2 linked regions of the Homo sapiens genome follow. The protein of the gene in region 2 purifies or fractionates together with the protein of the main gene of each other region. This does not show direct contact. Each region holds a gene or a part of one and is shown on either strand. Other genes may lie near its edges.

Region 1 (3,500 bases), on a different chromosome or scaffold from region 2:
GCTTTTATTTCTTTGGATTTTTAATGTGTAAACAATCATATAACCTATCAATAATAATAATTTCACCTCTTCCTTTCTAACATTTATACCTGTTACATAAGTTTCACACTCAATTGGATTGGACAACTTCCACAGTATTTTCCTAAAAAGGAAAACTATGGCCAAAAAAAAAAAAAAAAATCAGATTTAACTTAAAATGCCTAGAAATATTTATTTCAAAATGAAATCAATTCTCACCTTGACGGAAAATATTACACCTCCTTTGGGTTTAAATGAATTGAACAGAGCCAGCAAATCTTTTGCCTTTAATCTATCCCAGTCCATGTTACAAACTGCTAATCGACGTGTAATCTGAGAAATGAGAAGAATTAAATAGTACATAATCCATATCATTCTCAATACTTGAAAAATAAAGATTCTAAAAATGTAATGCCTTCTGTCCCCTATGCTCTGAAATTAATAGTACAGGAGTTATCTAAGCGTAATTCAGTATATAAAAGAGAACTTCAAATGAGCCAAACAATAGTAAAACCATAACAGGTAAGTACTTTCTCTTACTTGGTTCTTAATTCTTAAATCAGAACATGATCATGAGCTGATTTTTTAACCACCAAGTTTGTTCAGCTATTTTGCCATGCATGCATGAGTAAGGAAGTTGAGTATGTTACCCTGCAACATTTCTTTTGGGTGCCGTACAAACAGAAATACAAACTACTAGCTAAAACAAGTATTAAAAATTTCATGCAACTTTTAATTATTTATGTAGAGCCTCTTCTTATCTGCTTGGACGTCTTCTAGTTCATATAATTATATTCCATATCAAATTTTAATCAGAATCATAAAGAATACTATTACCAATAAGCTTTTCCCACTTAATGACATCAGTTCTACCAGCCATAAAAGCTGCTTGTACTGTGTTTTTCACAAATAATCTTGTTTATTCAAAAGGTTACCTCATCAGCACGAGGAGCATCTTTATCTAATTCTCTCCAAGCATGCTCAAAACCAGATTCTTCTGGAAACAAATCTGCCGTATCATCTTCATCTTCAGAACTAGTTTCTATATTTCCTTTACCCCTTGCAAGATCAGGGCCACTGTCACTTTTATCATCATCCTCACTATCCTCATCTTCATCCTCCTCTTCATCTTCATCCTCCTCTTCATCATCTTCACTTCCATCGTCATCACCTGAAGCTCTACCAACACTTGTAATTTCATTTTCAGATTCCTCATCACTTCCTATTTCACTAACGCTTTCTGAATCTTCCTCCAGAGCATCTTTGTCACACATTTCACCATCTGTTGAGTTTTCATAACCATCACTGTCTCTTGTCATTATGAGTTGAACCACTGCAAAATGTTAAAGGGGAAAGAAATTAAGAAAAGATATATGCTGAATTAAACTGAATCCAAATTATCTTGACATCAACTCCAGTAAAAATATAATTTCTATGAAACACAGTAAAGACAAATATATATTCAGTAAATGCTTAGTCAATTTTTATGATAGAAATCCTAACCATAACTTCTATGAAACAGAGTAAAGGAAAATACACTTAACCAAGTTATTTAATGGAAATCCTAACACATGCTCACATCACGCAAGTAGATCCAGACATTCATTCAATACTTAACAGTGTGCCTGCTACGTGCTAAGTGCTCAATATACAACAGTTGGTAAAAGAGAAGCAAACAGTGCTCTCAGTGAAACTTCTAGCTGAGTGAAAAGAATACATGGATATCAAATAAAATCAATATATAGGAAAAGTTAAAATCACAACTAAGATATCCCAGAAAGAATGTTTTCTAAGGGGATTTAATGGGGTCCCTAAGTGAGTGATAACTGAGCTGTTACTTGAAGGATGAACAGGAGTTAAATAGTCAAAGTTAGACTAATAGATGGAAATTTGTTTGAAAGAGCAAGGAAGGTACCTGTAAAAATCTGCCAATAGGAAAAAGCCAACCATCATGTCCAGATCACAGATAGCACAGAATCAAGTAACAAATGGAAATGAAGAGTTAAGTAGAGGCCAAGCTATCAAAAAACCATATAGAGAGCTTGGACTTTTTCATAAAAGCAATGGGAAGACACTGCTGTTTTCAAAAAAGAGGATGTCATCTTCTTTTGGATATTGTCATCCTCAGACTTGCATATTGAGGAGATCACCTTGACTATACTGTAGAAAACTGACTTGGGAAAGTAAAGAACAGATGTGAATATAGTAAAGGTAGTACAGTACAAAAAGCAAGAAATGAAGGTAGCACTAAGTTGGGTGGCAGTATGTATGCAGAGATGTACATGGATTTCAGAGTCAGTCAGGAAGTGAAACCAATAATTACCGACTGGAGATTTGACACGGGGACTGGGAGTTTTGGAAGTGTCAAAGATGAGTCATAGCTTCTTAGCTTTCAGAGCTAGTTAGCTAAGAAGATGGAAAGATGAAAAGGGAACACTGGAAATGAACTAGTTTGTTTGGTGGAGGGAAATCATGAGTTCAGTTTTGAATATGTTGAATACGAAGTGCCACTCAGTCATCTAAAAGAAAGTATCAATAATAAGAGTGTACAGCTCAGAGAAGTCTGGGTTGGAGATCAGTGACTCATTCATACGCAGTTGACAACAGAAGCTGTGATGTGGATGAGATCACCTATAAAGACAGAGAAATAATATTTATACTTTTTCTGCCAGGTCTTGAACTTTGTAATCAACTGTCATGATTAGCAATACACCAAGATTGAAAGACTGTTTTTGCTTAAGATGGAAATTTTAGTCCTCACAACTCTGAAAGGGCTCATTTCCTACTTCTAAAGCAATCACAGGCTTCTATCTACTTGGTGTGTAGATATATCTTACGTGTTTTACTCATCTTTAAGTTGGAGCTTATTTTCTGCTTACAGGCTCTAAGTTTGGAAAATTAAAAGCAAATTTAAAAGTTCAAGATTTAGAATGAAATTGGAACTAATTTTCTCTTGGTCCTATAATCTTATAATAGTTATTCACTGACCAAATATTTACTGAGTATCTACTACATACAAAGAATTGAGCTAGGATAAGGGAAAAGAGAGAAGATTTGTAACACGATCTCATGCTCTTGATGGATTCATAAATAAAAGGTAACCATTTACTGATTTATAAATCTATGTTCTCAATCACCATACAGTGAGAGACATCTAAATTTGCCTGCAGAGAGGTATTTATAAAAAGGCTTCACAAAGATACAACTTGACTTGAGACTAACTGAATGAAAAGGCATCTTGTTAGAAGGAAAAGCAGGAAATGGGCTTTTATGTTACCACCACAACGAAGCAGGGATTAATAAAAATAACTAGCCAATAGAAGTGAAAAGCGCCAAAATGAAAGCATTGTCACAGGTTCTATATATGAGATCTGAAAAACACAACATTGAAAGTTACTATGAGGTAAGCAGAATTTACTTTTAAGCAACAAGCTTAGAAATAACATCTTACAGACCCAGTCTATCTAGTATTGCAATATTTC
Region 2 (3,873 bases):
CCTGGGATCTGGGACAAAAATAAGACAAGCTTTCTGCCCTCCAGACACTGCTCCCCACACCCCCCCACTGCCAGTTAGGAGGACGACAAAATTGGTTTTCAATCAAGGCACATTCTAGATTCAAATCCCTGCTCCCCACTTAGGTCAAGTTGCTTCATTTAAACCTCAGTTTCCTCATCTGTAAAACAGACTATAAATCTTTGTTCAGGGAATTGATCTGGGTAAAACGGGAACTCCGATGGGCGTGTTCAGCCCCAGTCTAGCTTAGAGTAAGGCCCCAGAAGCGATCGCTGCACCGGAGACCCCCCTACTTGGGGACAGTGCTTCTTGGTTGATGTTCTAGTCTCTGAGCTACTATTTCAAAGTTTCATGAGGGTTGAAAAGACTCATTTTGGAGAGTGGTTTATATTCTTTACAAATTAAAATGTTACCCAGTCTGACACCCACTCCCCTAACAGCCCCCATGTGGGCCCTCTAGCTTCCTAAGACTCCCCAGCCTGCCCCTCAGCCAGGTCTCAGGGCTGGGGGCCAGAAGGATCACACCACAGACAGCGCTGGTCTCCAAGGCTTTATTCAGGAAGGTTTGCATCTGTTTGACAGGCACTGTGCAGGGGTTTGTAACAGTTCAGTTTTCTCCAAGGTCCCATGGGGAGAGGGGTGCAGAACAGGAAGAGAGCCTCTCGGCAGGCGGGGGGGGTCCTCTCCTCCAGAACAAAAGGCACTGACGAGGTGACCACCCCAGAGCCAGGGGCTGGGTTATATACACATGGGGTGGACAGATGCAGAGAAACTCAAAGCTAAATACAACTGAAGGATGAAAGAGTCCATCTTACAGGGCCAGGGCTGCTTCTGGGCTCTTTCTACCAAGTGGGAAAGGAAGTTCAAAACAAAGGCAAAGCTTTCAAGGAGAAACAAGAGTCCAGCCTTTCGGTCTTAGTGTTCTGTGCAATTTTAAAACCCAACAAAATAAATATAACTTAAAAATGTCTTACATGACACTAAAGGCAAGCCTGGGAAAAGCAAGCAGTTGAAGAAACCTTCCGAGAATGCTAAGCAGTGCTGAATGCCAGGAACTCGTGGGGCCCCCCGCAGGACAGGGCAAGAGGACCCTGCGCCCATTCACCTGGGCACAGGTACACAGAGTTTGTCCTGCCTGCTGGCACATGCACTGCCAGGACCCAAGGAGTCCCTGTGGTGACGAGGGCTGGGCAGGCACGGTCTTCCAGGCTGCCAGGGCAGGGGTTCTGGGAGATTCCATTTCACAATCCATCTATCCCACTGAGACAAAGGGAAGGGCCAGATGGCAGGGAAGCGAGTGGCAAAATGGCTTGAGAGACAGAGTAGGTGTAGAAGAGAACTAGCACGGTAAATACAAAAAAAGAGAAAAAAAAAACAGAAAACAAAAACCCTAAGTAACAGAATAACCCTAAAATGATGCTACTTCATACTATGTTCACATATTTAATGTAACCCACAGCCAAGTATTGCCAATAAGAGGCCCCATGGGCCTCCTTTAATAAGCACATCATTTGCATATTAGCACATTGTTTGCAAACAGCTGGTGTCTGCCTAAAGTGCTTGGAACATTTTGTTCTCTTAAACAGGTCCCCTGTAATTTTTGTTCATATCATGATTTGCTTTAGCAAACTTCTTTCACAGATGGAGTAAGGATAACTTTTGGCCAGTCCATATTCATAGAATCTTTACGTCTGAATTAATGATGCCCCTGCCCTGCAAATGGCTGAAGCACAGACCACCAGGGTCCCTTCTAGCCCAAAAGTCACTATAGCTCCAGAGGCCCAGAGTTGACTTTGGCTCCCCAACGCCCCCGTCCTGCCTGCCTTCCAGATCACATGCTGCCACGAGGTCTCTCGTGCTCCACCGGGCGCGTGTGTGACCTTTAGCAAGTCGGCCCACACAGGAGCTCACCACTGTTTTAAACAAGAGCCAGGAAGTGTAAGTTGATTTCCTTTTTTAAAATCTGTACTTATACATCCTCATGTGTCCCACCCTCCACCCCCAGCAAGTGTCACTCACACTTCCAGCACAAAAGGGGAAATGTACATGTCCCGTGGGCAGGTTGACAGTTCCCCAGAGACCCCGGGGTGGTGGGGTGGGCAGTGGTTCCTCCAGACACACACACCTTGGTCCATAGTCTCCCTCTGTGTCCCTAGCTCCTGGACTCTCCCAGCTCCTGTACCTCTGACAGCAAAGGAGTGGGTGGCAAGCCCCAAGGAGCATGGGGCACAGAGCTGGGGGTTTTGTTCTTAAGAAGTCAGGCAAATTTTACATTCCCTTCCATATCAGACTCACTGGCTTTCAGTTAAAATTGGGCTTAAATAGGTTCTCCACGAATCTCCAAATGCAGAGACTTCAGGAAGAGGTGCCTGGAGCACGCCCTGGCATCCACCACATACCCTACAAGATACCCACACTACATTGGAGAAGCAGGAATCTAAGCCCTCCAGGCAGTAAGGCTTGTTTCAGAGGCAATAACAAATGATGCCAGGAGGCCACCGCGGCACCTCTGGAAGCCAGAAGCCTGCCTTCTTCCTGCCTGGCGCAGACCTGAGCTCCTCCCCTATTTCTATATCTGCAAGGGACTCTGGGCCCCATGACAGGAGCCCATGTATGCAGGCAGGGTTGACCAACTAGCACCAGGTAGGTGAGGGTCAAGAAAAATGTGCTCCTCCCTGGGGCCAGGGCCCAGAGACTCTATAGATCCCATCTTCCCCTGGTAGCACCCTTGGAGCTCAGCATGGCAGAGTGTGCCTTCTGAACTCATGGGTTGCAATTCCAAGTGGCACAGCTTCTGCTCGCCTCCTCTGGGAAGGCCTAGATCAGAGAACACAGCCAAGCTGGCTTCAGCCTTCTCTTGGCTCCTGGGTCTGGCCTGGAGCCGGCAGGTTTCCATACCAGATGGGTGGGGGGCCTTGCCTGAGCAGCCCTGGAGAGGCCACCAGGGCATCCCTGAGGCTGCTAATCGGAAGACACTTTGCTCACAGTCAACATGTGGTTCCCCGATGGTTTTGTGCCCCAACTACCAGAAAGCCCTGCTCCCAGCCAGGGACCAGGAACCCGGCCGGCCCCCTGGGCTCTCCGGTGGGGAGGCCCCGGCAGAAATAAGGCTGTGCTTGGCAGCACTCTAACAGCACTGGCCGCCAGGGGGCAGCAGGCCTCCGCAGGTGGTAGGTCCAGGCTGGTGCTTCCTAGGGGGCTCCCAGAGGCAGGGCTCATCTGGTAGGGTCCCCTCAGCAGCCAGGGACCCCCTCCAGCTCTACACCTGACCCACCTCTAAGACTGGGCATTTCTCTTCTAGTAGGTGACCCTCTCTACAAAAAGCAGTGCAAACACCACCTCCAAGCCCTGAAGTTAGGAAAATGACTAGAAACTCTCATCTCCTCTTCTACAAAGTGTCTTGTAGTGCAGTTCAGGAGGGTCAGTCAGGTGTAAGTGAAGGAAAAGTTAGGAACGAGAAAGGAAGCACAGGAGGAGGAAAGGAGGCCCAGGCGGGGGCCAGGGAGGGCGTGGGCAGCTCAGGCGAGTGGGGCATCCTGGGACATCTCGGTCAGGATGTCGACGAGGTTATTGAGCCCCGAGAGGTAGCCATCCTCCCGGTTCCCCTCCTGCCAGGGGACGTCATGCTGCAGGGTCTGGCCCTCAGGCAGGGGCGTGGTTTTCCCAAAGTCGATCATCCACACTTTGGCCTGTTCCTTCTTGTCGTGGATGAAGAGGAGGGAGCTGCCAATGACCTGAGGAGAACATGGGGGTGAAGGGTGAGCTGAAGCCCGGGCCTCGCCCTCCCCACTGCGGCCCGGGGCCTGGGTGACCAGGTGGGGAGGCTCGCTCAGGCCGGACAGTTGGGTGCCTGCA

What was found. The genes of interacting proteins can lie anywhere in the genome.
Region 1: the proteins of ITPKB (region 2) and ESF1 purify together in Homo sapiens (affinity purification with mass spectrometry; one large-scale study listed by BioGRID and IntAct). This does not show direct contact.

What each region holds. Positions count from the first base shown.
Region 1 is NC_000020.11:13,774,920-13,778,419, forward strand, and holds part of ESF1 (ESF1 homolog), read right to left. Parts: intron 1,352-3,500; coding exon 954-1,351; intron 352-953; coding exon 238-351; intron 1-237. UniProt on the Homo sapiens protein: May constitute a novel regulatory system for basal transcription. Negatively regulates ABT1.
Region 2 is NC_000001.11:226,631,135-226,635,007, forward strand, and holds the end of ITPKB (inositol-trisphosphate 3-kinase B), read right to left. Parts: intron 3,753-3,873; coding exon 3,537-3,752; 3' UTR 556-3,536; downstream 1-555. UniProt on the Homo sapiens protein: Catalyzes the phosphorylation of 1D-myo-inositol 1,4,5-trisphosphate (InsP3) into 1D-myo-inositol 1,3,4,5-tetrakisphosphate and participates to the regulation of calcium homeostasis.